Linked DNA regions of Homo sapiens. The protein of the gene in region 1 purifies or fractionates together with the protein of each later gene. This does not show direct contact. Each region holds a gene or a part of one and is shown in the gene's direction. Other genes may lie near its edges. The genes, in order: IFT27, IFT80, SDF4, IFT172, CLUAP1, KATNIP and CHP1.

Region 1 (4,252 bases):
TTGAAACATCCGTGGTGAGTATTTCCACTTGCCTCGTCGCCAAGTCTGGAGTGGGCCTCTGCTGGCAGCGGTCTTGCACATGACCTCACGTGCAGGGAGCTGTTATTCCACCATATGCAGAGTCTCATTTGGAACTGATGTTTACATTCTTACCCGAGATCTCTTCTCAGTATAGCAGTAGCTGCTCAGACATAACAGGAAAGCAGATCAGCCAGCCAACCCTGGGAAAAGGTGTATCTCAACTAGTAAGAAATACAAGTGCTTTGTGTGCGGTGATCATGACCCTCGACGTTTGCATGCAATATTCTGGGTTCAGATGTTGTTGGAACATTGTTTCATGTGGCTCTCACAACCAGTCCTGTGAACCAGAAGTTGGCCCCACAGCTCCCATTCCAGTGTTGAGGAGCTCAAGTGACTTGTCCAAGGTCCCATGATTAGCGAAGGGTGGAGCCAGGATTAGGACTCATGGCCTCTAATTCCCATCGGTACCACCCATCCTCACCTTGCTGCAGCCCCAGGGTGACTCCAGGCCACAAAGTGCCTGCCAGTTAAAAGAGCAGAAGACCTCATTACAAAAAGCAAGTGATTTTCAGCGTCTTCAGTACACTTTTCCTGGCAAAAACTGCAATTACTTTTGCACCAACCTAATGTATCATGATTTTAGCTGTCCAGCACTGAGGAACCTGCTTCCTGTGTTTGGGAGTTTTAAAGTCCCATCCTCCTTGAGGCCAAGATGCAGCCATGTGACCCAGGCTGCACCAATCAGACCCCTCACATGAGACTCCACTAGGAAGGGCATGAAGTGATGATCTGCCCTCTAGGAACAGGTGTGGCCCTGAACATCCATCTCAGAGCCAGCAGGGGCCCGAGTGTTGGTTGCCCTGCCCCTCGCCAGGGTTGCTAGCTGGGGAGATCACCAGGCCTGGCACAGTCATGGTCGTAACTTGGACCTCACCTTGTGGCCTTTAGACCTGATTCTGTGGCCCTCAGAATTGAGTCATGGGCTGGTTAATGTTCTGGAGGTCATCTTCTGCTCCAGCTTGACTTTGGCTCTAGGCACTTCTGCTATTGCATCTAGGAACCTTGACCAGTGCTGCCGTCCGAGCTTATAAAACTCCCCCAAAGCAGCATGCTTCCTTAGGGAAAGTACAGCAGTAAAGGCAGGCACTCTGACCTCCCATGGTGAGTGGCAGAACTCGCCGTGGGAACCTGGACATGTTATTTCACCTGTTGGTGGCTCAGGCTTGTAAAGTGAGGATCATAAAATACATCCCTTATCGAGTAATAAATATGAGAATCAAGTAATATGTCGCATATAAAACATGGATCACAGAGTCTGGCGCCTGGTAAACACTCAGTAGATGTTAGCTTTCTTAAAGTATAAATATTACCCCTAGAATCTTGTTTATACTGTTATTACTTACTAAATCCTTGTATTCATGGCTTGTGCAGAGATAAATATCACCCTTGCCTCTGGTCCAATTATCACAAATGCTAAATTAATGAAGCCCAAATCAGCTTTTCCTGTATAGAGGGTTTGCCATCTTTTCTGCAGCACACCTTTGTGCAAAGCAGTAGGCGGTAGTGCCCTAGCAAACAGGATTTCAGTATTCTCCCTTCCTCCATTCATTTGTGAAATTGTCCCTGCACCCCAATATTCCATATTCCCTAGAACGCTTGATAGAACTCAGAAATTAAAACCCACCCCAACCTCCAAAACAGGAGTCACCAAAGGCCAGTGGGCTACGGGTTAAACTCTGTTGAGGTGTTGAAGTGGGTGGGTGGGTGTGAACTACTCTTGAAGAGGCTGCAGTAAGCACTTGCTATTATCTGTGCAAGTTAACTAGTCCCCCCTGAGTTGAGGCTCACAGAAGCACCGCTGGCAGCTCGGTTAAGAAAGCTGTAATTAAAAAGGAAATATAAGCAAACGCAGCTTGAGACGCAGCCAAGGGCTGGCGCCAAGCTCATCTCCTCCTCTCTTCTGCCTAAACACCGCAGTGACCATCCTGCCTACCCAAAGGAGGTCCCTACAAACAAGTGCAAGAACAATCCGCGCTGATCACTGCCCTCCCAGGCAAGCGAGGAGTGGGGAAGTAACGTTTGATGAGGGCCTACTGTGTGCTAGGTGTTTTGCACACATTATTTGTTTAGGCTTCATAACAGCCCTACAAGGTAACACTCCTGTGTTGTATAGATGACAGACTCAGAAAGGTTGTGTAGCTTGCCCTGGTTGCATAGTTAAACGAGGGCTAGAAACAGGACTAGGAGTCAGGCCTGTCCAGCTGGAAAACTTGGGTTTTCTAGAAGGGGTACCCTGGCCTCCTGCGGAGCCTGCTGTGGGACTCTGCAGAACACAATTCAAGGCCAGACTGAACACTAGCCTGAACCTGCCCTGAGAATCCCTCTAAGCCGACCTACTCCACAGCTGTCCTGACTGTGTAAGCGAGATGATGATTAGTGATCAGACGAAAGGATTCCTGTCATTGGTAACCCTCTCAAAGTATTTGGAAAACAGTTCAATTTTCATCTATTTCAGAAGCACGCCGTGGTGTCTATTGAGGCTCACCTGCATTGAATTCCTTCCTTTTTATGTTGCGATCTCCCAAGATTGCATTGTGGAGTGTTTTCGAATCCATTTTGAAATCCCCGTGCGTGCGCTATGCAGGCCTCAGTCTTTTTCCATTCCATTCTTAACTCTACTTTCGACGGAAGCAGTGTTTTACCCCGACACTGGCTTGCCTAGGACCTTGTGCTCTGCACAACTAGCAGGGCCCGGCAGGATGTACTGAATTCTTGCTCTCGTGTCCAGCTGGACGGTGATGGCTTTCAAGTCCTTGGCTGTTGGGAGCTTACTATAAATGTTCGTCTTGGCTACAAACTCTCCACTCTTTCCTCGGCACTCTCTCAGCATTGCCACCACTGTCTTTCCTCTTGGCCAACTGTTTTCTTTACTTAGGCTTTCCCTTGCTAGAAAGTCCAGGTAACTTTCTCCACGGGACCTGGTTTCCTTCGCACATCCCAGCTGGCCTCGAGGAAAGGTAGCTCTTCCCAAATCAGAGAATCTGGATGCTGGGCTGGGCTCTGCACCAACCAGCTGGGCCGCTTCACCCGCTGGGCCCCAAACTACTCATCTGTGAAGCGAAGGCACCGCGCTTGATGCCTTCTGCAACGTTCTTCAGTTTGGAAATCCTTCTGTTTCGTTGGGGATATTTCACGGCCTCTTCTCAAGGTTGCACTTTTGCCAGCTGCCAGGGATCGTCTCAAAACAGGTTCTTAGTGCATTCATAGCTTGAGCTGCTGTCTTGAAAGTAGTACATTCCTTTTTCTGCCAACTTTTTTCTGAGAAAGTTTTTGAATGCACACGTGCACCCAACAGAGTGAGAGTGGCTGTTAAGAGAGAGGGCGCCATTTCCTTTGCCCTCCAGCCTGTCCCTGTGCACCCTGGAGGGGCCCGTTTTTTCCACCGCTTAGATAAAATCTAGGGCAAGTTCCTGAACTTCTCTTTTCTCTCTCAGGTAACAAAAATTCTTTTGGGCTCCTTTAGTCACAAAGATATTCACGATTTCAGGTATTAAAGTGCCCAGCCCTGGGTGATTGTCAAAATTCTGAACTTGATTTAAAGTGGCACCTCCTCTCACAGTCTTCGGGAGGGAGAGACCGGAGCCAGGAGTGCAGCGTGTTTGCTGGGGTCTGTCGTGGCCCACTCCACACCTGCTGGGTGGATCCGGCTGGTGCCCCATGGGCGCCTCTGAGATGCCCCTCCCCACCCCATCAGTGGCGCTGTCTCACCTGCAGGCTGCTTCTCACAGGTGGTCCCCCCTCACTCCTCCTGCAGCCCCAGTTCCTGGCTGTTCATTCTTATTGGGACCCGTCACCCTCCTGGAGGCGGTCCCAGCCGAGCCCCCTTAAGACAGCACCAGGCTGGCTCCACTTGGCCCCCGCTGGTTCAGGGAAGTGCTGCTGCAGCCGTTTAGTTTGACAAAGGAGGCAGCGAGGCCGTCTCATTGGTAGCCCTCTCCTGGCTTGCCCAGCCACCACCTCACCTCGATTCCTCCCAGGCCTGGGTCCAGCACCAGCCTAGGAAGAGGGTGCCCCATGCTGTCTAGCTCTTCTTCGGGATGGGGGGCTCCAGGTTCCTTGGTATTTTGCTTTGGCCTTTGGAGCCTCAGTCAAAACTGAGGAAAGGTGTCATTTTCACATCTCGTCACACGTACAGTGACTGCAACTAAAAGCACAGGCTTTGTAGAAACAG
Region 2 (3,500 bases), on another chromosome or scaffold:
GAGGCTAATTAGGAAGCTGCTGTAGTAATTCTGGTTAAGAGAAGATGGCATCTTGGATTGCGGTCATAGTGGAGGCGGTGAAATATTTTACATTTTGAAGATAAAGCCAACAAATGTTTTTATTTACAAGTTGGATTTGGTATGTGAGAGAAGAGTAAATGATGACTTAAGTTTTTGGTGTTTGTAACTGGAAGAATGGAATTGCCATTTACCAAGATGGGTAAGAATGTGGTAGGAGCAAAGTTGAAGGGAAAATCACGGTTTTGATTTGGATCTTGTTAAATTTGAAATGTCTGTTAGACATTCAAATAGAGTTGTCAAATAGATATAAAAGTGTGGGGTTCAGTGGAGAGGTATGAACCAGAAATATGAAATTAGTAGTTGTCACTATATGGTGAATATATTTACATTCATATTAAGCTATAAAACTGGATGAGTTCACCATGGCAGTGAGTGCAGATACAGAAGAGGCACAAGGACTGAGCCTACCATTTAAGGCTGGGGATATTAGGAGAAAGTAACATTTGGTTATTCCCTCTAATTCTCTGTAGTTCCTTTCCCTCCTTAAACTGCTAGTGAAGTAAATGCCAACACCCTTATCAAGATTGAAAAGAAATCCCACATAGTTCCATATGCTGCTAGAGGACTGCCCCTTTTTCCCTTATGAAAGTCTGTATCAATGCTGCCTAAGAGAGCAGTTCCAAGAAGGCTATGGTTTAAATTGATTAGCCACCTTTTCTCAAGAGACATTTGGGACTACTGTGTCATACCTTACATCCCTGTTTACCTCAGTCTCCACATTCAAGATAATTCCCTGCATTAGTTTGTTATTAGGATTAGCTGTTGATGACAGTAATTTAAATACGATGCAACTATTCTCTATCACTTAAAACTTTGATGGTACAGGATTGATGTGACTTTCCACAAGGTCAGAAATCTTGGCTCTTTTTTATCTTGCTGTGTTATACATGGCCTTGATGGCATGGCATGGGGAGTGTCACTCTTCCGAGTTTTTATTTGCCAATTATGCTGTGATTTTATATAACTTTTTTTTTGAGACAGAGTCTCTCTTTGTTGCCCAGGCTGGAGTGCAGTGGTGTGATCTCGGTTTACTGCAACCTCCACCTCCTGAGTTCCAGCGATTCTCCTGCCTCAGCCTCCTGAGTAGCTGGGATTACAGGTGTGTGCCACCACCCCGGCTAATTTTTTGTATTTTTAGTAGAGACGGGGTTTCATTGTGTTAGCTAGGATGGTCTCGATCTCCTGACCTTGTGATCCACCTGCCTCGGCCCCCCAAAGTGCTGGGATTACAGGCGTGAGCCACTGTGCCGGGCAATTTTATGTAACGTTTATAAGAAGTAATGAAATGGGTTCCTTAGATAACTCACTGTGAAATTAGGCAATGTGAACTTAGGTACGTACTATTACTGTTGGGCAGTATATCTGATGCAGGGCAGGCAAGCTCCAAAACTGGGGGTTAGCCCAGGAGTGTTCTTGGGATGGCCCAAGAAAGAATTCAAGGGCAAGCTGGTGGTGTTATACAGCAACTTTTATTGAAGCAGCAGTGTATAGCAGCAGCAGAGGTACTGTTCCTTGCGGAGCAGGGCTACCCCATAGGTAGTGTGCCCAGAGGAGCAGCTCATAGGCACTTCTGCAGTCATATTTGTGCCCACTTTTAGCTATATGCAAATTAAGAAGTGGGCTATGCAGAAATTTCTAGAAAAACAGGTAACTTCCTGGTGTTACCATGGCAATAGTAAACTGATATGGCATACTGATAGGCATTTCTTACAGAGAGGTGCTTTCACCTCTTCTGTGTTTTAGCCAGTCCCCAATCTGGTCCCGTGTCTGAGCTCTGCCTCCGGAGTTGAGTCCTGCCTCTTACCTCATTTCTACCCCTCACAGAATATAAAATCCAGATTGGGCCAGTAGGTTGATGATATTATAATAGCCACTGTTGGTTTCAGTATTATTAATGCCTTGTGTGGCCACACCTAGTTTCAAGGGCAGCTAGGAAACATAGTCTTTGTTCTAGGTGGCCAGATGTATAGCAAAACTTCAAATTCATACCACAGAAGCAGGGATGAATGGATATTGCAGGATAGCCAGCTGTTTCTACCATCTCCAACCATCTATCTTAAACCATTAGTTCTTCACCATCTAAGTTTTTTTGGAACTCACTGTGTGTCATTAGCCAAATCAGTCCTCCACTTTTATTCTGAATGATCCCTTTACTCTCAAAGTCTAACTTAAATCTGGTTGTTTCCTAAGGAAACTGCTTTTCTTTTCTTTTTCTTTTTTTTTTTTTGAGACGGAATTTCACTCTTGTTGCCCAGGCTGGAGTGCAATGGTGCGATCTCGGCTTACTGCAACCTCTGCCTCCCGGGTTCAAGCGATTCTCCTGCCTCAGCTTCCTGAGTAGCAGGGATTATAGGCATGCACCACCATGCCCAGCTAATTTTTTATTTTTAGTAGAGACAGGGTTTCTGCATGTTTGTCAGACTGGTCTCAAACTCCCGACCTCAGCTGATCCGCCCGCCTCGGCCTCCCAAAGTGCTGGGATTACAGGCATGAGCCACCATGCCTGTCCCTGGAAACTGCTTTTCTTATAGATCTCTCAAGTAGAAGCTATTTTGCCTCCCAAACTCCCATATGTCAGAGTTTTATCTCTCGTTACTGTATCTGGACAGTTGATTCTGTTTCTCCTTCCTGTCTAAAATCTCCTGGTCCCTTTGAAACAAGTCCAGGATGTGGAGAAATAGGAACACTTTTACACTGTTGGTGGGACTGTAAACTAGTTCAACCCTTGTGGAAGTCAGTGTGGCGATTCCTCAGGGATCTAGAACTAGAAATACCATTTGACCCAGCCATCCCATTAGTGGGTATATACCCAAAGGACTATAAATCATGCTGCTATAAAGACACATGCACACGTATGTTTATTGTAGCACTATTCACTATAGCAAAGACTTGGAACCAACCCAAATGTCCAACAATGATAGACTGGATTAAGAAAATGTGGCACATATACACCGTGGAATACTATGCAGCCATAAAAAATGATGAGTTCATGTCCTTTGTAGGGACATGGATGAAATTGGAAATCATCATTCTCAGTAAACTATCGGAAGAACAAAAAACCAAACACCGCATATTCTCACTCATAGGTGGGAATTGAACAATGAGAACACATGGACACAGGAAGGGGAACATCACACTCTGGGGACTGTTGTGGGGTGGGGGGAGGGGGGAGGGATATCTTTAGGAGATATACCTAATGCTAAATGACGAGTTAATGGGTGCAGCACACCAGCATGGCACATGTATACATATGTAACTAACCTGCACATTGTGCACATGTACCCTAAAACTTAAAGTATAATAATAATAAAAAATTGAAAATCATTTTTTAAGGATGATTTCAATCACCATTTTTCTATATAAATCTAAGTAGATGACTGAAAATCATTATGAGATCTATTTAGAAAAAGGGTAATTAT
Region 3 (4,252 bases), on another chromosome or scaffold:
AGGCCACATGACTTAGCTAAGGTCATAGATCTCAAGAATGTTCAAGTCAGGGTCTGGAGAGTGACCCTAACCCCATGGGTCAGTGGCATGATGCCAGGAGGGACAGAGCCGGGCCCCACAGGAAAGCTGTGCTGCAGGTGTTGGGCGATGGGGACAGGTTAGCCCCTGGAGGTGCTGACAGCTCGAGAGAGAGATGGAAAGACGGAGAGACAGGGCTGAAAACTCAGTGTCTGTAAAAAAAAGACCGGGCACAGTGGCTCACGCCTGTAATCCCAGCACGTTGGGAGACTGAGGCAAGAGGATCGCTTGAAGCCAGGAGTTTGAGACCAGCCTGAGCAATACAGCGAGACCCGTCTCTACAAAGAGTAAAATAAAAATAAATTACTGGGCGTGGGGGTGCACGCCTGTGGTCGCAGCTGCTCCGGTGGCTGAGGCGAGAGCATCACCTGAGCCCAGAGCATCACCTGAGCCCAGGAGTTCGTGGTCACGGTGAGCTGTGGTCACCGCTGTACTCCAGCCTGGGTGACAGAGCAAGACCCTGTTTCTAAAAATAAAGAAAAAAACACCACGTGTGGTCCGGAGAAAACAAATGCCACGTGTGGTCCAGAGAAAACAAATGCCACGTGTGGCCCGGAGAAAACAATGCCACGTGTGGTCTGGAGAAGGCAGTGCCACGTGTGGTCTGGAGAAGGCGATGCCACATGTCTGGATCCTGTGAATCGAGGATATGTTTCATGTTGCAGGATAGACGTGCTTGGGGAAGTCTTTGCTGAGTCTTGCTAATGATGTGTCTGTGTCTCTCTGCAGACTGTGAGCTGCTTGTCCCCATCCTGCGGCCGTCCTGGGGACACAGAGCCCTCCGTGGTGCCCGGGGATTGGATTGGAGCCAGGACCTCACTTCCTCCTCTGCCCCTGCCCCTGCCCCTCCCAGCACCTGGCCCACACCCTGCAGCCCGCCCCATGGTCTGGCCCTGGGTGGCGATGGCGTCCAGGTGGGGTCCCCTCATTGGCCTGGCTCCGTGCTGCCTCTGGCTCCTGGGGGCAGTCCTTCTGATGGACGCGTCTGCACGGCCTGCCAACCACTCGTCCACTCGAGAGAGAGTAGCCAACAGGGAGGAGAATGAGATCCTGCCCCCAGACCACCTGAACGGGGTGAAGCTGGAGATGGACGGGCACCTCAATCGCGGCTTCCACCAGGAGGTCTTCCTAGGCAAGGACCTGGGTGGCTTTGATGAGGACGCGGAGCCGCGGCGGAGCCGGAGGAAGCTGATGGTCATCTTTTCCAAGTAGGTGCCGCCATGTGCCCAGACTGGGGGGCTGTCCGCGTGCGCTCGCCTGTGTGTTCCTATCCTGGCTTTGCGCGGTGGGGGGCGCCGGGCCCTGTGTCGGGACCTGCCGGGCTGGGAAGACGTGCCGGTGATGAGCGCCACTTCCAGCCTGCTGTGTTTGCGCGGAGGCCTGCGCTGGCAGCCCAGAGCCGCTCCTTGAATGCCCTGGGTCCGCCGGGGGCTCAGAGGGCCAGAGTGGGCCTGTGTGGCCGTCCCTAGGACAGCCTGGAGGAGCCCACGCGGCACTGCAGTGGTCAGCGTCCTCCATGCTGAGGGGCAGACGCCGGCCACGGGCAGCCTCCGCAGGCTGCAGCCCCAGTTGGACGAGGCCTGGCTGAGGAGTGAGGGGCTGCCACAGGTGGCTGGAGAGCTGGTACAGGGTGCTCTGGGCTCCTCCTGACACGCCCTCTACCCTGTGTGTTTGGGGTCCCTGTCACACACGGGCCGCGTATCACACGCAGGCTGGGGGTGTGTGGGGTTGGCTTGTTTTGCTGGCCTGGTCGGGAGCAGAGCTGTGCTGTCAGTGGCCCATCCTTGGCCGTCACTGCCCCCACCCTGCTGAGTCCCGAGACCCTCTTGCTGCCTCTGTGCCTAGTGCCGAGCTTTCTCCCCCGACCCCATCCCTGAGTCTCGAGAGCCTGTTGTGAGGGGTCCAAGATGGGTCAACCTGACCACTCACCCACAAGGAGCCAGGTCCTGCACGGGCGCCTTACTCCTTACGGCACGGCCGGGGTGCCCTGCGGTGTGGCCCTGGAACCTACTTGCACTCAGCGCTGGCCTCACCCCTGGAGGCAGAGCAGGGTCAGGGCGTGCCCGTGAGTCCCCCAGGCCAGCCAGGGTGCCGGGCAGGGAGCCGAGGTGCAGGTGAGAGAACACCCTGGGCCTCCTGGGACCTGCGAGACCTGGGCACAAGGAGGCAGCCCCCGCCGCAGGGCCTGGCCACGAGCTCACCTTCCCGCAGGGCCTGGCCACGAGCTCGCCTTCCCGCAGGGCCTGGCCACGAGCTCGCCTTCCCGCCGGGCCTGGCCACGAGCTCGCCTTCCCGCCGGGCCTGGCCACGAGCTCGCCTTCCCGCCGGGCCTGGCCACGAGCTCGCCTTCCCGCAGGGCCTGGCCACGAGCTCGCCTTCCCGCCGGGCCTGGTGCTCCAGGACCAGTGCAGAGGGGCAGGTGGCAAAGCTGGTGAGCAAGGGGATTGGGCAGGGCTGGGGTCCTGGGGTGCAGGAGCAGGTAGGAAAGGTGTGAGGACTGGTCTGGCTGTGCCACGGCCCTTGGGCTGAGGGCCAGGCGGGAGGGCCCTGAGGATCCAGGCTTTCGGGCGGAGCACAGGTGAGCTGGTGGGACGGAGGCACGGTGCCAGCTGGAGGACCTGGGCACCAGGTGTGGTGTCCCCTTGCACCTCTCCTCAGATGGTACGGTTCGGGGGTCCTTGCGTGGCCTGAGTTCACTTGGTGGTGAGCTGACCAACCCACGAAGAGGCTGCTGGTGCCCCTGGGGCCTGTCAGGTTCACCACCCCTGAGCTCACGAAGGCCTGGCTCGCGGCATCACAGGGGAAGGGTCCCCGTCCCTGCTCAGCCGGTGCTGGGGGTGGGCTGCACGCCTGGGCGAGGGGAGTTGAGGCTTCTGCTCGGTGCGTCTCCAGCTGGACCGGGGTTTCTTTTTGGTGCCTGTAACGAAACCCCAAGCTGTCTCGTTTGAGGAGGTGGGCATGGGGAGTGGGAAGTAACAGCAGGTCTCCGGGTCTCCCTGACTCCTGCGCCGAGCGGCGACAGCGGCCGCTGTGGGTGTTTAGACTTCCCTTCCCACACGCGGGTCCCTTCTCGCCCTTCTCCTGCGTAGGGCCCCGTCCCTCCAGGACCCACGTTCACTCAGCTGTCCTGTCTCCTCTGTCTCCTCTGGGCTGGAACGGTGTCTCAGACTCTCCCGTTTTTGTGAGGACGTAACAGTTCTGAGAAGGGCTGGGTAGGAGGTTTTAGGCTGTCCCTCAGTTTGGGCTTGTGGGATGTGTTTTCTCCTGACCGTACAGGGTTGAGGGTTTCTGGAAAGAGCCCCCAGAGGGGAGGTGCCATGTTTCCTCCTGACCGTACAGGGTTGAGGGTTTCTGGAAAGAGCATCCAGAGGGGAGGTGCCCTGTCCTAGGGGCTTTTGAGCTTCACTTCCTTCCCGCTTCCCTGCACCACGAGATGCTCCAGGCTTTCCTTCCCGCTTCCTGGCACGGTGAGATGCTCTGGGCTCGCCTCCGTGCCACCTGCCCCAGTGCAATAGCTGCCGCCTTTCCAGGAAGCCCTGTCTCCCGTGGCTGGAGCTGGAAGCCAGGGTCTGGGCACTGGGCGTCTTGCCCTTGTTCTCTCAGGAGCCAGAACTTGATAACATGCGTGTGTGCACCAGCCCAGTCACATCTGTGTTCTGCCAGCCCTGTTCACGTGTGTGTGCTGTGTACACGTGGGTACCGGCCTGTGCACTTGCGTGTGTGCGTGCCAGCTCCATGTACGTGCACCGCCCTGCAGCCGTGTCTTCAGGCACCTGAGTTTGGATGAGTGACTCCTTGCCGACATCTTGACTGGAATCCTGCGCCATGTGGTTTCTTTCCACCTTTTTGCTTTTTGCTCTGCCTCGTGTGTGTCTGTGTCTGTGGAGTGTGTAGAGCGTGTGGAGTGTGTGGCCCGTGTCTGTGGCATGTGGAGTGTGTGGCCCGTGTCTGTGGCGTGTGGAGCGTGTGGCCTGTGTCTGTGGCGCGTGTGGAGCGTGACCGGAGCATTCGAGGATGCACGTGTCCACGTGAGACCCACCAGGTGCCCCACCTGCCACATGGCCACCCGGGTGGCCCCGTCCCCAGCCGGTGTGTTTTGGGGACTGTGGAGCTGAGGGTGCCTCCCAGGCCCGTCCACCTCTGGGCTGCTGCGGCTGCTGAGGGAGGGGCGCGT
Region 4 (4,252 bases), on another chromosome or scaffold:
AGGTCTATCCACAGTAGAGAGGGCAATTTGCTTTACTCAGTCTACCAATTTAAATGTTAACCTCATCCAAAAACACTTATAGAAACACCCAGAATAATGTTTGACCAAATACCCGGATACCCTGTAGCCCAAATTGATACATAAAGTTAACAATAACATATATATATATATATATACACACACACATACATATATATAATTATATTTTAATATATTTAAAATTGGGATGCAGGTATAGTTTAAATGACGCACCTTAGATACAGTGAAATGTGAGTGGGGGTCATGAGGGGGGTGAGATTGGCCCTCTAAATGACATATTCGTATGGTGATGCCCCTGCAAAATTTCCCTTAGGTTTTGAGGTTTTTTTGTTTGTTTGTTTATTTTGTTTGTTTGTTTTTTGAGACGGAGTCTTGCTCTGTCGCCCAGGCTGGAGTGCAGTGGTGCAATCTCGGCTCACTGCAAGCTCCGCCTCCTGGGTTTAGGCCATTCTCCTGCCACAGCCTCCTGAGTAGCTGGGACTACAGGTGCCCACCATCATGCCGGGCTAATTTTTTTGTATTTTTTTAGTAGAGACGGGGTTTCACCGTGTTAGCCAGGATGGTCTCCATCTCCTGACCTCATGATCCACAAGCCTTGGCCTCCCAAAGTGCTGGGATTACAGGCGTGAGCCACCGTGCCTGGCCTTTTGAGGTCTTAAAACTCAATAACCCCTAGAAGTTAGAGGGAGAGAAGTAGAAAGAGAGGGGCTGATGATTGGTTTTGAGGTTCTAGCAGATTTTAATCAGCAGTATTGAATAAGCATCTGATATATGTAACTTGGGAGCATGGCATGACTGTACCTTTTTCAGATTAGTCAGAAAATGGCTTCCTGATGCAGACAGGGCAGATTAAGCTTTGAAGGGCTTGGCAGTAAGAAAGGGAGGCAAGAACAGGTGAGGGAAAGACCAGAGGGGATTAGCATAAACTACAGTGAAATTGGATTGTGTGGAAATTGAAATCTGGTAAGGATGTCAGCATCATAATGGAAACAGAGTGATCTCATTGAACACTTGGGTTTGTAGAATTTCTGAGTTTTAAGTGTTGAAAGGTTATCATCAAGACCATCTATACCAGCACTGGCACTAGAAATATAATGCAGGCCACAAATGTAAGCCATACATGTCATTTAAATTTTCTAGTAGCCACATTTAAAAAGAGTAAAAAAAAAAAAAAACAGGTAAAAATAATTGTAATATATTTTATTTAACACAGTATATCTAAAATACACCATTTCATCTGGGCGCAGTGGTACATGCCTGTAATCCCAGAACTTTGGGAGGCCACGGTGGGCAGATCACTTGAGGATCAGGAGTTTGAGACCAGCCTGGCCAACATGGTGAAACCCCATCTCTACTAAAAATACAAAAATTAGCTGGGCATGGTGGTGGGTGCCTGTAATCCCAGCTACTCAGGAGGCCAAGACAAGAGAATTGCTTGAACCTGGGAGGGAGAGGTTGCAGTGAGCTGATATTGTGCCACTGCACTCCAGCCTGGGCGACATAGCAAGACTCTGTCTTAAAAAAATTAAATAAAATACTACCATTTCAACATGTACTCACACACATTATTTAGATATTTTCCATTCTTTTTTTATACTAAATCTTCAAAATCCAGTGTGTGTGAATGAAGAAACAAGTTCATAAAAGCCCAACACAAATAGTTACAGAATGCCCTGGACTCCTTATTTTAGGAGTCCTTTCTCTGTACTCTGCTACGAAGATTTTACTTATGACAAAGACCTTGAAAATGATTTTGTCAAAGGCGGAAGTTTCAAATGCAGTGACCTCAGGCAGCGCAGGAAGTATCTGAAAGAGTTAATGAACTGAGAGGAAAGATAGGTCCACTGATGGCTAATCAAAGGATCTAATGGACCATGAGCCAGGTTTTGCCCAGGAGGGTGCAAGGTTGAAGGGGAGAGTAAGAGAAAAAGTTGGCATCTGGAGGAGAAAAATGTATGAAATGGATGAGGCTGAGGACTCAGCGGTATTTGTCTCTCCTACCCATTTCCATCTTCTGTTCAACCACTCAGGCAGCTGAACTCTCCATCAAGTTTCTGCCTCCCCAACGTAATATGGAAGTCGTTCTGGCTGTAGGACCCCAGCTGATTGGAATTGGAAAGCACAGTGCAGTAAGTAGGATGCTGAGATGGAACAGAAATAGATTTCACAGAGATGGGTGCAAGGGTGACATCTACACCCAGGAAGGTGTGTGAGGTGGGCCTCCTGGTGGGCATGGCTTGCAGTCCTGGGGAAACAGATGGGAGAGCTCACAGTGGGAAGACTGGGAGCGAGGAGAAAGTCTCCACGCTGATTTCCCACTGTGCAGGCTGCAGAGCTCTATCTGAATCTGGACCTTGTCAAGGAAGCAATCGATGCTTTCATCGAGGGTGAGGAGTGGAACAAGGCGAAGCGTGTAGCTAAGGAGTTAGATCCCAGGTAAGCTTGTAACCCCTTCTTACTGCGAAATTCTCTTTTACTTCCTTTTGTAAAGACTGGGAGAAAGTCTTACCGGGAGGGTTGGTATTCTGGAACATGAAGATGGAGCTCTCTGAACATCTTCACAGGTATGAAGACTATGTGGACCAGCATTATAAAGAGTTCCTCAAGAATCAGGGCAAAGTGGACTCGGTGAGACTTGGAGAGTTAGCAGGAGGCAGAATGCAGGGAGAGACTCACAAGACTCTCTCCCTCTTCTTTCCCTCATGTCATCTCTTTTCTCTTGTAACTCTGTCTTCCATTGACCCAGCTGGTGGGTGTGGATGTGATAGCTGCTTTGGACCTGTATGTGGAGCAGGGCCAGTGGGACAAGTGCATTGAAACAGCTACCAAGCAGGTACTGCTCTCTTCCCATTCCCAGTTTTTCTTTACATTTTCCCTTGATTCCCCACCTGCCTCAAAGATGCATCTCTTCTACCTCCACAAAAACCCAAAGCCCAAAGATTTCTAATGGGCATCAGAGAAGCTCAGTCTGAAACTGGGGTCAGAGGTTTGCGTACACCCTTTTTCCCCTCAACAAATACATGGCCTCAAGTCACCTCACTGCTTGGTCTTGCCGATCCCAGCCTCACTCATGCTTTTCCTCCACCCCTGTACAGAACTACAAGATTCTGCACAAGTATGTGGCTTTGTATGCAACTCACTTGATCCGGGAGGGTAGCTCTGCCCAGGCATTGGCCCTGTATGTACAGCACGGAGCCCCTGCTAACCCACAGGTACCAGCCTTCTCCTTGGGTTGAATGTTTCCACAAGAAAGCTCTTTCTCCTCTAGAACCACCTATCTTCTCAGGAACTATCTTCTCAGAGGATTCTATCCTTAGAGAACGTCATGCCCAGAGCCCCCCACGCATCTCCAGAAATGTACAGCCTCTCTGGAGGCTGTGTATTTGCTAAGAGCATGGGGAGGTTTGCAGAAACTTCCAACTTCTGTTTGAAGAAACACCCGTGGAGCTCCCCATGCTGTTAGCAAATACACAGGCACCTGTCTTTCAGAGATGAATCCTGCATACACCTCTAGGGCCTTTATTGACTTCCTCCAGAGAATGAACACTGCTCCCTGATCTGAGTCACAATGTTGTGACTCTGCATTTACATTTGTACAGTTGCCCACACTCACACAGCACCAGCTAAGAAAGTTATTTCTTCCTCTTTTCTCTTTATCAAAAATAATCAGCACTTAAAAATAATTTACTTCATTAAAAATAATCAGCACTTAATAATCTGCCACTGTTGGCCGGGCGCAGTGGCTCACGCCTGTAATCCCAACACTTTGGGAGGCCGAGGCAGGCGGATTACGAGGTCAGGAGATCGAGACCATTGTGGCTAACACGGTGAAACCCCGTCTCTACTAAAAATATAAAAAGTTAGCTGGGCGTGGTGGCAGGCACCTATAGTCCCAGCTACTCGGGAGGCTGAGGCAGGAGAATGGCATGAACCTGGGAGGCAGAGCTTGCAGTGAGCCGAGATCATGCTACTGCACTCCAGCCTTGGGCAACAGAGCAAGACTCTGTCTCAAAAATAAATAAATAAAATTAAAAAAATAAAAATAAATAAAAATAAAAATCTGCCACTGTCCCCCAGCCCTTGCACACACACACATACCCATTTCTACACACAAAGCCTGTTTCTCCTCCCTTTGGCCCCACTTCCAGTGACTTTCTCTTCTAGCTATGCCCTTCTCAGATCCCCTTCTTCCCTCTACCTCTAGAACTTCAAT
Region 5 (4,252 bases), on another chromosome or scaffold:
CCCGCAGAGTACTTATTAATTACAGAGGGGAAAAGAGTCACTTCTCAGGGAGAAGCCTGCCAGTCACCCCCTTAATCAAGAGATCAAAGTGAACATCATCGTTACAGAACAAATCAAAATCATGCACGCCTGGTAGGATGCAGTCACTTCTGAGTATTCCTGCCAACGATGCATATCTGACTCTAATGAGACAAAGCCGGATTGAGGGGCATTCTACAGATTAACCAGCCTGTATGCTCCCAGAGTGAAAAGGTTCTGAAAGTCAAGGAAAGCTGAGGGGGCATTTCAGACTGAGGGAGGCTGTGGAGATGTGATAACTGGACACATAGGCAGCTCCTATCTGCTGTTGGGGACTTCACTGGGACAAGTGGGGACAGTGGAGTGGGGCTGGAGTTAGACGGTGGTAGTGTGTTAGTGCTGGCTTCCTGTTTTGATGATTGTATTGTGGGGATGTAGGAGAAAGTCCTTATTTGTAGGAAATACACGCTAAAGTATTCAGGGTATTGGAACGTCTGGTCAGCAACTTACTGTCACCTAGGTTGGGAAAAACGCTTTGTGTTGTACAACAGGTTTTCCGTAAATTTTTGATTGTTTCTAAATTTAAAAATTAAAAAAAAATTATTATACCTCTTATCCTTGCCAGTGTTCTAACTGAATCAGGTGAACACGGCATGAATGTGCCCTTAGCACTAATATGTTAAAAGTAGAACACCCAAGAGAGGACAGGGTTCATTTCTTGGTAGACATCTCTTAAGACTCCTTTCATTGTTAGAAAATATCTGTGATGTTTGATCATTCTAAAAACAACCAAAACAACATGGGTACTTAAAAGGGTTTGGGGAGTACAGGCCATTTATTTCAGAAACCAGGGAAAATTGCTTGTGTTTACACAGCTGTTTTGCATTGTGGATCTTTCTTGTTTGAGGAACAGATATGTTTAAGGTGGGATAAATTTACTAGGTTTTAATCTGACTTTGGTTCGAGGAAACAGTTGCCATTAACTGAAGTTGTTTAGAAAGGAGACCCACCTTTCTTCCTGTGAGGGTGAACTCGCATTTCTCCTGGGGGCTCTAAGGCACTTGCAGCAAATCGATGATAAGGGTCTGATTATTTTCATGAAAGTATCTTAGAAGTGGCTAGTGTACTTAGACCAAAAAAATTAGACCATAAACGCATTGTCAGTAACAGTGGCTGGTTCCAAAACACACCATGCCTGAGAGTTGTGGAGAGTGTCTGGGCTTCGTAGGCCATTTCTCTGTGGAGCCCATAGCTTTTCAGAGACTTGCAGGAAAACAGAGTAACCCCTTCGTGGGATGCTACACATAGGCAAAGAGCTGGAGGGGAAGCCCCACCTTGGCCACCAGGAACTTAATGCAGGGCTGGAAAGCCAGAACCCTGGGGGGCAGTTCCACGCTCAGCTGGGTGGCAGTCCAGATTCCTCATAAAGAGATTGGAGCCTGAACCCCAGGCATGTGATCCAGCCAGCCACCGGACAAGACGCATGTGAAGACGGCGCACTACCAGTGACTCTACCTGCTTCAAATGAACCTTCTCTTAGGATAGGGAGACTTGTGTCACCGTCAGTGGGCCCGTGTCCCCCTTCCCTTCTTTACTCAGCCTCTGTTGCCCAAGGGCCTCTGTCCAACTGTTGCCCTGGACCCCTTCCAGAGCTGGTGCACACCAGTGTGGCCATTGCCACTGTGGGAACTGCTTTCGTACTGTCTTCAGAGTGGTTTCTCCTCGTTTTTAGTCTGTAGTCAAGCTTCTGTTGCCAGGGAGAGGGAAGAGGACCTTCTCTCAATCCCAGCAGGCAGTGGGTTAGGGCTGGGACCAGCTGTTTCTTTCTCTCCCCTCCTAGTAGAGCAGTACTTGGTGTGTGTGGGTATTCTGTAAGTCGGGTGTTTGTAACTAGGGGCATGGCCCGAATGATAAAAAGGCAGACTGACCGTCCAGAGTGATGTGCACCTTGTTCTAACCGAGTGAGCCAGAGAAAAGACTGCAGGCCTCTCCACCTTGACCAGGACACTCTTCTTTGCATCTTCACTTCTTTCCCTGGGTAGAAATGCCTGCTTTTCATGGGGAAAAAAAAAGAGATACCTTTTTCTGGACCTGTGTGACATTCTCCCTGGAACTAGTGGGTTAAGTGAGTCATTGCTTGGGGAAGTGTCTATTTGTTTGCTTTTGTGTTTGTTGAGCATAATGTTGCTATGCCTGAAGAGTTGCAAAATTCTTCTAAGAATTAGGATGGCTGTTTTTATTGCCACCTTGTCTCATTATTTCCCATTAAATATAGACACAGGTTCAGAAGACTAAAGACCTGCTCAATAATGTGGCCTCTGATGAAGCTAATTTAGAAGCCAAAATCGAAAAGAGAAAATTAGAACTGGAAAGAAATCGGAAGCGACTAGAGACTCTGCAGAGTGTCAGGTAGATATGAACACTTGGAGAATGAGTAGAAAGATGTCCTGGAAAGTTCAAACAAACTGGGCGTGGTGGCTCATGTCTGAAATCTCAGCTACTCATGAAGCTGGGGCGGGGGGTTCTCTTGAGCCCAGGAGTTTGAGACCAGCCTGGGCAGCATAATGAAACCCCATCTCTAAAAATTTTTAAAAATTACCTCAGTATGGTGATACACACCTGTAGTCCCAGCTACTTGGGAGGCTGAGGCGGGAGGATTGCTTGAGCCCAGGAGGTTGAGGCTGCAGTGAGCTATGGTTGCATCACTGCACTCCAGCCTGAGCCACAGAACAAGGCCGAGTAACAGAACAAGGCCCTGACTCTAAAAGAAAAAAAAAGTTAGAACAAAGACTTAAGAGAATAGAATGTGATCTTAACTCTTCTCAAGCAATGAAAAAAAGCCTTACATAAGGGTATCTTCACCTCAAATGTACATGTGTTGCCTGTCATAACAAGCAGATGGCTAAACTCATTCTCTTTACTGCTTGCGGTATGTCTGGAAAACTGCTTAAAGCTTGAACTGCCCTTTAAGCTTTTATAGCTTCTTGGAACTCAAGGCAGAGTAAGTGAATCCAGACGGGGAAATCCAGACGTGGTCTCCTAAGATCTTGCCATAAATTAGGTAGAAACAGAAACATACTCCTGCCTGTTTGTTGGCATAGATTTTAGACTTTATTTAAACCTTGATCATTCCTCACCAGTCAGTAATTCATCTTTCTTCCTACGTTACCTCATTGGAAATATATTTCCCAGGAATACCGATGGAGAATAGTGGTGCCGGCTCTCTCTCTCTTCTCTTCCTCGTTCTGTGCCTCTTTCCCTCCCCCATGCTTCTGCTCTTTCTCCCTTTTCATTCACCCTTTATTTTTCTTTCTTCTTGGCTCCCTCCTCTTCCCAGCTGCCTACTCTGCTCGGATGTTTTGCCTTTTTGGATGTTGGTGGCTGGCTACACCCTGCCCACTGTCCCGAGGTCTGTGGGGAGGCAGCACCTGGAGGCAGCGACAGCAACCACAGGGAGCGCCCTGGCTCCTCCCTGCCCAGCGCAAGGCCAAGGCCCTTCCCCTCCTGAAACTGGCTCTTTACCTCTGGAGCCTCAGAGAGGGAAAAAAAAAAAAACAGAAGTCATTGCCGCCATATAGATTGATCTCCTTGACACATTCCACTTTTAAAGCATCAATTCATTTTTGTTAAGCTCCAAATCATTTTAACAGAAAAGTCTCTTTGTTTTGCTCTAGTTCAAAAGATTATAATTATTTCTGAGTTTATCTGCTTATATTTTTAAAAGAGTAGAATTTTCCCTTTAAGGTCAATAATAAGAAAAAAGAAAAAGTTCAGCAAACCAGTATAGATTTTTATGGTTTTTTTTGTTTTTGTTTTTTTTTTTTGAGTTGGAGTTTCGCTCTTGTTGCCGAGGCTGGAGTGCAATGGCGCGATCCCGGCTCACTGCAAACTCTGCCTCCCGGATTCAAGCGATTCTCCTGCCTCAGCCTCTCAAGTAGCTGGGATTACAGGCGGCCGCCACCACGCCCAGCTAATTTTTGTATTTTTAGTAGAGACGGAGTTTCACCATGTTGGCCAGGCTGGTCTTGAACTCCTGACCTTGTGATCCACCTGCCTTGGCCTCCCAAAGTGCTGGGATTACAGGCATGAGTCATCATCACGCCTGGCCTTTTTAAAAAATTTTTTATCGTTTAAAAACCTCTTTAGACTGGGCACAGTGATTCACGTCTATAATCCCAGCACTTTGAGAGGCCAAGGCGGGCAGATCGCTTGAACTCAGGGGTTCAAGACCAGC
Region 6 (4,252 bases), on another chromosome or scaffold:
CTACAAAGAAGAAAATAAAAGTCCTTCCTGCTCCCCACCCAGAAACCAGGAACAACACTGTTAACACGGGTGCATGTCACCCGTACCAGGATATGCTGCATTTAAAGCTGCGTATCTGGCTTTTTCCTTTTAACGTTCTTTTACAAACCTTCCACCTGCCATTAAATTGTCTTTGAAAACACCGTTAGAGTCACGTGACTGTGACAGTCTCCAGCACACACCCTCTTGTGGCTGACTCAGACGCCTCAGGCAGCAGCATTGCCCCTGGTCATGTGAGTTTCTACAGTGGGGAGCGACTCCTGGCAAAGTTTCTAACACAGCCAAGTAGTCTTCCCTTGGTTCACACGATGATTGCATTCTTAGAAAATTCAGTCTATGAAAAAATGCTTTGTGTTTTTGCAAAAACAACCAGATTCTGGAATTGGGTGATCATAGACAATTATTTTACCGACCTGAATGGCCCACAGGACAGTCAGAAGCTGTGTGGGACAGGAGACCAAGCTCTGTGCCAGGGCCCCCATGCAGTGCAGGATGGTAACATGCCTGGCCCCAGCCATCCAGTGCCAAGAGGCCTCTTGGCTAAGGAGACAGCCGGGAACAACCCCGCTGGTTTCTAGAGGGCTCCCCTGGAGGTGGCCCTGCCTCACTGAGAGCCACCACAGGAGACAGTCTCTAATGGTCCCCACTTCCACACATGCCACTCACAGGGCTTCCCCCCTCTTGTGTCCTTTCTTCCAGAAGACACCTGGTCTTCCAGGACGCCGTCACGGTCAAGGTGGCGCAGTGAGCAGGAGCACACACTTCACGAGTCATGGAGCTCCCTCAGTGCCTTCGACCGCTCCCACCGGGGACGCATCTCCAACACGGAGCTCCCGGGGGACATCCTGGATGAGCTCCTGCAGCAAAAGAGCAGCCGGCACAGCGACTTGCCCCCCTCCAAGAAGGGGGAGCAGCCAGGGCTGTCGAGAGGGCAGGATGGCTACTCTGGAGAGACAGACGCTGGGGGTGACTTTAAAATCCCCGTCTTGCCTTATGGACAGCGCTTGGTCATTGACATCAAGTCTACCTGGGGGGACAGACACTATGTCGGCCTCAACGGAATAGAAATATTCAGTTCCAAGGGTGAACCGGTGCAGATTTCAAACATAAAAGCAGACCCTCCCGATATCAATATTTTACCAGCCTATGGGAAAGACCCCCGCGTGGTCACCAACCTCATCGACGGGGTGAACAGGACCCAGGATGACATGCATGTCTGGCTGGCCCCCTTCACGCGGGGCAGATCCCACTCCATCACCATTGACTTCACGCACCCTTGCCACGTTGCCCTGATCAGAATTTGGAACTACAATAAATCTCGGATACATTCCTTCCGAGGCGTGAAGGACATCACAATGCTGTTAGACACCCAGTGCATCTTTGAAGGAGAAATCGCCAAGGCCTCTGGAACCCTGGCGGGAGGTATGGCGTGTCTGTAAGAATTTTCTCAGAGCCCCTATCTGTGACTTGCTGAGAGTCTATGGGAAAAAACAGACCAGCTGGCTAGCCAACAACAGATCAGTCCTTTCTCTTTCTTTTTTTTTTTTTTTTTTGAGACGGAGTCTTGCTCTGTCCCCCAGGCTGGAGTGCAGTGGCGCGATCTTGGCTCACTGCAAGATCCGCCTCCCGGGTTCACGCCATTCTCCTGCCTCAGCCTCACGAGTAGCTGGGACTACAGGCACCCGCCAACACGCCCGGCTAATTTTTTGTATTTTTTTTTTTTTTTTTTAGTAGAGACAGGGTTTCACCATGTTAGCCAGGATGGTCTCGATCTCCTGACCTCATGATCTGCCCGTCTCGGCCTCCCAAAGTGTTGGAATTACAGGCGTGAGCCACCGCGCCCAGCCCTTTTTTTTTTTTTTTTTTTTTTTGGGTGGGGAGACAGGATCTTGCCCTGCACAGTGGCATGGTTTCGGCTCACTGCAGCTTCGACCTCCTGGGCTCAAGCAATCCTCCCACATCAGCCTCCTAAGTAGCTGGGACTACAGGTGCACCAACCCACCTGGCTAATTTTTGTATTTTTTGTAGAGACGAGGTTTCACCATGTTACCCAGGCTGGTCTCGAACTCCTGGGCTCAAGTGATCCACCCACCTTGGCCTCCCAAAGTGCTAGGATTACAGGCATGAGCCCCTGCACCCAGCCACAGACCCGGTCCACTCATCCCCTCTTACAGCATGAGTGTGCTAGGCCTGACCTCATTCAGCATCTCCCATAAAGCACCTGTCTTGGTCCGGCCCCTAGAACCTGAGTCTGAGATGGGGCATTCTTTGGCAAGTGACTTATGGAGGGAGTGCTCCTAGGAGAAACCTGGCATAGTGAAGCAAGGATATAGTTTCCAGGAAGCCCAGCCACAACCAGATCTTGAGGGAGGTCTGGAACATAAATTTCAGGTCTTTCCTGCCTGAAGGTGAAGGAGCAGGGCGTTAGAACCCCACCTACCAGGCAGTCATTGGAACCAAGGCTTGCCGGGTTGGAGCTGTAACTCCCACACCCTTCCAGGCAAGGCACTCTGAGAAAAGGATCCACCAAGATCTGGGTGGGGTACCAACAGCGTCTTGCATAGTGCCTTGCCCACCCCAAAGAAATGTCACTTGCCTGATGACATATCACAGTGATTCTCATGAAATTAGATCCCTTCCTTAGATCCATGTGATGCTTATGGTCCGTGCATTCCATTTGCAAATCTGTGAAGACTAATAAGGCTCACACTAATCAATACCAGTTAAGGGTGTGGGGTTGTACAGCACAGAAGTGGATGGGTTTAGGCTCTTGATCTACAAATCTCTGGGATGTGAAGTGAGTTGACCTTTCTGTCATCTTGATAACCCATTAGCCCCAGAGCACTTTGGAGACACGATCTTATTCACAACCGATGATGACATTCTCGAGGCCATATTCTATTCTGATGAGATGTTTGACCTGGATGTGGGGAGCCTGGACAGCCTGCAGGATGAAGAGGCAATGAGGAGGCCCAGCACGGCCGACGGCGAGGGGGATGAGCGGCCCTTCACCCAGGCTGGCTTGGGGGCTGATGAACGGGTAGGACTGGAGCTGGGGGGCTGTGGGGGGACCCCCAGATAGGTTTCTTCCCCTAACTCAGAGTAGAGCAGGGAGAATTAAGATGGATATCCTTTAAGCTGCTGGTGCCACTGTGTTGACATTTCCCATCTTTCTACTTTGTTTTTTTGTCCTCTATGTCATATTTCATTCTCTAATTATTTTTATTTTTTTATTTTTTTTTAACCGAAGTAAAGAAAGTATTCAAATTCTAATCAAAGCCAGGAGAAATGAGCTCTGTGTCATCTCTGCAATTCAGAGGTTGGCAGTCTGGGGGGAGTTTTTGCTTGGGGTTGCGTTTTGATCATTCACTGTTGTTTTTGATGGAAGGACTAGGAATGCTTTTCATAGGCAGAGTTACAGTTAAAATAATGATCATCACAGCCATGGTTTCATGAACACATATCATGATCCAAGCAGGGTACACAGTGTTCTTGTTTCACCCTCATGACAACCCTCTGAGTAGAGACTATTAACATTGCCATTTCGGAAACTGATGCTCAGAGAAGTCAAGTGACTTGCCCAAGGGCACATTGTGACAGAGAAACAAGGGTAGAACTTGAATGCGTGATTCCACAGTTTATGCTTTTAATTGGTAAGCAACTTATTATTTTTTTATTTTGTTTAGAGATAGGGCCTGGCACTGTCGCCCAGGCTGGAGTACACTAGCGTGATCATAGCTCATTGCAGCTCAAACTCCCGGGGCTCAAGCAATCCTACCACCTCAGCCTCCTGAGTAGCTGAGACTACAGTGCATGCCACCATGCCTGGCTAGTTTTTTTTTTATTTTTTGTAGAGATGTGGTCTTGCTATGTTGCCCAGGTTGGTCATGAACTCCTGGACTCAAGCGCTTCTCCCACCTTGGCCTCCCAAAGTGCTGGGATTACAGGCAAGAGCCGCCACACTTAGCCAGATAAACAAATCTTTTAAAATGAAAGATGACCTTCAAGGTCAATTCAAGTCAGGACCAATAGGAAAAAGAGGAGATGGTTAAACAGGGTAGGGGAGAAATGGGGACAACACAAGCCACAAGGGATGGGGCTGGGCTGTGGGAAGGTCATGACTGAGGCAGGACAGCAACATGTCGTGTGGACCCCATGGTGTTCCCTGGGGATTGTACCTCGCAGCCAGGCAGAGCATGGGGTGCAGGAGCAG
Region 7 (3,812 bases), on another chromosome or scaffold:
CCACCATGCCCGGCCCATGAAATCGATTTTTAAAAAGTAAATTACAGGCCGGGCGCAGTGGCTCACGCCTGTAATCCCAGCACTTTGGGAGGCCGAGGCAGGCGGATCACCTGAGGTCGGGAGTTCGAGACCAGCCTGACCAACATGGCAAAATCCCGTCTCTACTAAAAATACAAAAATTAGCCAGGCATGCTGTTGGGCACCTGTAATCCCAGCTACTCGAGAGGCTGAGGCAGGAGAATCGCCTGAACCTGGGAGGTAGAGGTTGCAGTAAGCCAAGATCGTGCCATTGCATTCCAGCCTGGGCAACAGAGTGAGACTCCATCTCAAAAAAAAAAAAAAGAATCTATTTCATGAGATTGTAGAAGGGAGTAAAGGAGTGGAGGAAAGGAAGTCTATGAGCCACTGGGCTAGAGGCCCTTTCCTTTCTGTGGAAAAGCTCAGTTCTTGCCATCTGAAGACAGAGGTGGCTGACTGCAATAATAATATAAGGAGTCAGAAAGGTACCCTGTCTCCCATTTCATATTGCCTAAGAACCAGCCTTTCCATATTGCCTGACAGTCAAATTGTTAAAGTTGCTTATTTTGTTTAAGGAAGCAATTTTCAAAGTATGTTCACACCCTAAAGGTGTTAATAGAATTCCCAGGGGCCCAAGGATTGGTTAAGTTTAAGACAGATTTGGTGAAACAGTGTTAAATTCTCTTACTCAATTCTCGCAGCCTTTTAATTGTGCTTGTTATTTTTCTCAGAAGGGGATTTAGCATTTAACTCTTCAAGGATTTTTATGTTTTCTTGGGCCATACTTTAGGAATAGTTGGCTTAATGCAGCACTTCGAAGAGGACGACATTTTGGGTGGGATTTCAGAAAGCCCCACCAAACTGATTTAAATCAATAAGGAACTAGTTAGGCTCACGCAACAAGAATGTTTGGCATAGATTGTCCAGGCTGGTACAGTACCTAACTGATGTCCAGGAACCAGGCTTATTCTGTGTTCCTGCCCTGGCATCCATAGCTCATATTACTCACCTCATGGCTCCAGGGTGGCTGCAGTGCCACCAGACAGAATGAGGTAAGAAGAATGAGGAAGGGCAAAATGCAAAGGACTCTCCCTTAGTCTTTGTCTTCTTATCCAGTCACCTAGATAAGTTCTGCTTACATCATTGCCTAGATGAGAAGATAAAGGTTTCAGCCTTTTAGCTGTTACTTAGTCACATGATGGTAAAGATGGGGATACATTCTGAGATATGCAATGTTAGGCAATTTTGTAGTTGTAGGAACATCATAGAATGTACCTACATGAACCTAGATGGTATAGCCTACTACACACCTAGGCTATGTGGTGTGGCCTATTGTTCCTAGACTACAAACCCGTGCAGCAAGTTACTGTTCTGACTACTATATGCAGTTGTAACATAATGGTAAGTATTTGTGTATCTAAACATATCTGTGGCTGGGCATGGTGGCTCACGCCTATAATCTCGGCACTTTGGGAGGTGGCAGAGGGAGAATTGCTTGAGCCCAGGAGTTGAAGGCCTGCCTGGGCAACACAGTGAGACCTCATTCCTACAAAAAAATTTTGAAAAATTAGCCAAGTGGCTGGGCGCAGTGGCTCACACTTGTAATCTCAGCACTTTGGGAGGCGGAGGCGGGCAGATCATGAGGTCAGGAGTTCGAGACCAGCCTGGCCAACATGGCGAAACCCCATCTCTACTAAAAATACAAAAATTAGCTGGGTGTGGTGTCACATCCCTGTAATCCCAGCTACTCGGGAGGCCGAGGCAGGGGAATCGCTTGAACTGGGGAGGCAGAGGTTGCAGTGAGCCGAGATCGTGCCATTGCACTCCAGCCTGGGCAACAAGAGTGAAACTCCGCCTCAGGAAAAAAAAAAAAAAAAGGCATGGTTGCACACACCTGTAGTGTAGTACCAGTTCCTTGGGGGAGGCTGAGGTGAGAGGATCACTTGAGCTTCGGAGGTGAGGCTGCAGTGAGCCACATTCGCAACCCAGCACTCCAGCTTGGGCAACAGAGCGAGACCCTGTCTCAAAAAAAAAACCCAAAAACAAATACTTACATCTAAACATGGAAAAGGTACAGTAAAAATATGGTATTGTAATCTTTTTTAACAAATTTTTTGGCCGGGCGCAGTGGCTCATGCCTGTAATCCCAGCACTTTGGGAGGCCGAGGTGAGCGGATCACGAGGTCAGGAGATCGAGACCATCCTGTCTAACATGCTGAAACCCCATCTCTACTAAAAATACAAAAAATTAGCCTAGCCGGGCACGGTGGCAGGCGCCTGTAATCCTAGCTACGCAGGAGGCTGAGGCAGGAGAACGGCGTGAACCCGGGAGGCAGAGCTTGCAGTGAGCTGAGATCGTGCCACTGCCCTCCAGCCTGGGCAACAGAGTGAGACTCCGTCTCAAAAAAAAAAAAAAAAAAGGAAAAAAAATTTAACTTTTAGGTTCAGGGCTACATATGCAGGTTAGTTATGTAGGTAAACTCTTGTCATGGGGGTTTGATGTACAGATTATTTCGCCACCCATGTACTAAGCCTAGTACCCAGTAGTTATTTTTTCTGTTTCTCTCTCACCTCCTACTCCACCCTCTGGTAGGCCCCAGTGTCTGTGGTTCCCCTTTTTGTGTCTATGTGTTCTCATCAAAATACAGTATTATAATCTTATAGCACCACCATTATATATGCAGTCGGTCATTAACCAAAACATTATTATGCAGTGCATGACTGTATTTGAGGGCATCAAAGGAAAAGGAGGATGGTGATAGCTTTATTTTTAATCTTAGTAAAGAGTCCCTCTGATTCCCAAGGCCCTTGTAATTCCTGGCTCTTGGTCTTCCAGGTGCTACGCATGATGGTCGGAGTAAATATCTCAGATGAGCAGCTGGGCAGCATCGCAGACAGGACCATTCAGGAGGCTGATCAGGATGGGGACAGTGCCATATCTTTCACAGAATTTGTTAAGGTTGGTCACTTACTTCTTGTTTGAAAAAGTTACGTTTTAGTGGCTGGGCGCGGTGGCTTACGCCTGTAATCCCAGCACTTTAGGAGGCCAAGGTGGGCGGATCACGAGGTCAGGAGTTCAAGACCAGCCTGGCTAACATGGTGAAACCTCATCTGTACTAAAAATACAAAAATTAGCCAGGCGTGGTGGCGCGTGCCTGTAATCCCAGCTACTTGGGAGGCTGAGGCAGGAGAATCGCTTGAACCCAGGAGGCCAAGGTTGCAGTGAGCCGAGACCACACCACTGCACTCCAGCCTGGCAACAGAGTGAGACTCTGCCTCCAAAAAAAAAAAAAAAAGTTACGTTTTACTGCACAGGAGGAAGGGGGGAAAACATTACTCAGATAAGAGCTTGGGAGTGTTGTAATCTTCATAACCTTTGTAACTGTTACTGGTTTTCTCCCCCAGGTTTTGGAGAAGGTGGATGTAGAACAGAAAATGAGCATCCGATTTCTTCACTAAAGGAGACCAAACTGTTCCTTGCGGTCTAGTATTTAAGAACTGGAACTTGAAAGTCCTCCTTCTACCAACTCCACCTCCACCCCCTCATTCCCCTTCTCCCAAAGTACTACTGCTGTTGCATGACAACCCCAAATATGTTCTGTCAACACAAACCTGCCTTTGGTGTATAAACAGGGCATTACAGAATGGTACACCCTATATATTTCTGTTCAGTATCCATTCACTAGTTCTTCATTTATAAATATCATCTTCCCCATTCTGCTGCTGAATGCCACACATCCATCCAGTCTGAGAAAGTGAGAGAGGCAATCATGCCAAGAACAAGCCAGCAAAGC

What was found.
Region 2: the proteins of IFT27 (region 1) and IFT80 purify together in Homo sapiens (affinity purification with mass spectrometry; 2 studies listed by BioGRID and IntAct, with this or other methods). This does not show direct contact.
Region 3: the proteins of IFT27 (region 1) and SDF4 purify together in Homo sapiens (co-immunoprecipitation; one large-scale study listed by IntAct). This does not show direct contact.
Region 4: the proteins of IFT27 (region 1) and IFT172 purify together in Homo sapiens (affinity purification with mass spectrometry; 2 studies listed by BioGRID and IntAct, with this or other methods). This does not show direct contact.
Region 5: the proteins of IFT27 (region 1) and CLUAP1 purify together in Homo sapiens (affinity purification with mass spectrometry; 3 studies listed by BioGRID and IntAct, with this or other methods). This does not show direct contact.
Region 6: the proteins of IFT27 (region 1) and KATNIP purify together in Homo sapiens (tandem affinity purification; one large-scale study listed by IntAct). This does not show direct contact.
Region 7: the proteins of IFT27 (region 1) and CHP1 purify together in Homo sapiens (co-immunoprecipitation; one large-scale study listed by IntAct). This does not show direct contact.

What each region holds. Positions count from the first base shown.
Region 1 is NC_000022.11:36,758,666-36,762,917, reverse strand, and holds part of IFT27 (intraflagellar transport protein 27 homolog), read left to right. Parts: coding exon 1-14; intron 15-4,252. UniProt on the Homo sapiens protein: Small GTPase-like component of the intraflagellar transport (IFT) complex B that promotes the exit of the BBSome complex from cilia via its interaction with ARL6. Not involved in entry of the BBSome complex into cilium. Prevents aggregation of GTP-free ARL6.
Region 2 is NC_000003.12:160,389,226-160,392,725, reverse strand, and holds part of IFT80 (intraflagellar transport protein 80 homolog), read left to right. Parts: intron 1-3,500.
Region 3 is NC_000001.11:1,225,502-1,229,753, reverse strand, and holds part of SDF4 (45 kDa calcium-binding protein isoform 2 precursor), read left to right. Parts: intron 1-807; 5' UTR 808-960; coding exon of another isoform or gene 961-981; coding exon 982-1,286; intron 1,287-4,252. UniProt on the Homo sapiens protein: May regulate calcium-dependent activities in the endoplasmic reticulum lumen or post-ER compartment. Isoform 5 may be involved in the exocytosis of zymogens by pancreatic acini.
Region 4 is NC_000002.12:27,447,914-27,452,165, reverse strand, and holds part of IFT172 (intraflagellar transport protein 172 homolog), read left to right. Parts: intron 1-2,069; coding exon 2,070-2,168; intron 2,169-2,365; coding exon 2,366-2,475; intron 2,476-2,603; coding exon 2,604-2,667; intron 2,668-2,785; coding exon 2,786-2,872; intron 2,873-3,134; coding exon 3,135-3,251; intron 3,252-4,243; coding exon 4,244-4,252. UniProt on the Homo sapiens protein: Required for the maintenance and formation of cilia. Plays an indirect role in hedgehog (Hh) signaling, cilia being required for all activity of the hedgehog pathway.
Region 5 is NC_000016.10:3,517,610-3,521,861, forward strand, and holds part of CLUAP1 (clusterin-associated protein 1), read left to right. Parts: intron 1-2,293; coding exon 2,294-2,427; intron 2,428-4,252. UniProt on the Homo sapiens protein: Required for cilia biogenesis. Appears to function within the multiple intraflagellar transport complex B (IFT-B). Key regulator of hedgehog signaling.
Region 6 is NC_000016.10:27,748,846-27,753,097, forward strand, and holds part of KATNIP (katanin-interacting protein), read left to right. Parts: intron 1-738; coding exon 739-1,461; intron 1,462-2,873; coding exon 2,874-3,079; intron 3,080-4,252. UniProt on the Homo sapiens protein: May influence the stability of microtubules (MT), possibly through interaction with the MT-severing katanin complex.
Region 7 is NC_000015.10:41,275,913-41,279,724, forward strand, and holds part of CHP1 (calcineurin B homologous protein 1), read left to right. Parts: intron 1-2,854; coding exon 2,855-2,977; intron 2,978-3,423; coding exon 3,424-3,477; 3' UTR 3,478-3,812. UniProt on the Homo sapiens protein: Calcium-binding protein involved in different processes such as regulation of vesicular trafficking, plasma membrane Na(+)/H(+) exchanger and gene transcription. Involved in the constitutive exocytic membrane traffic.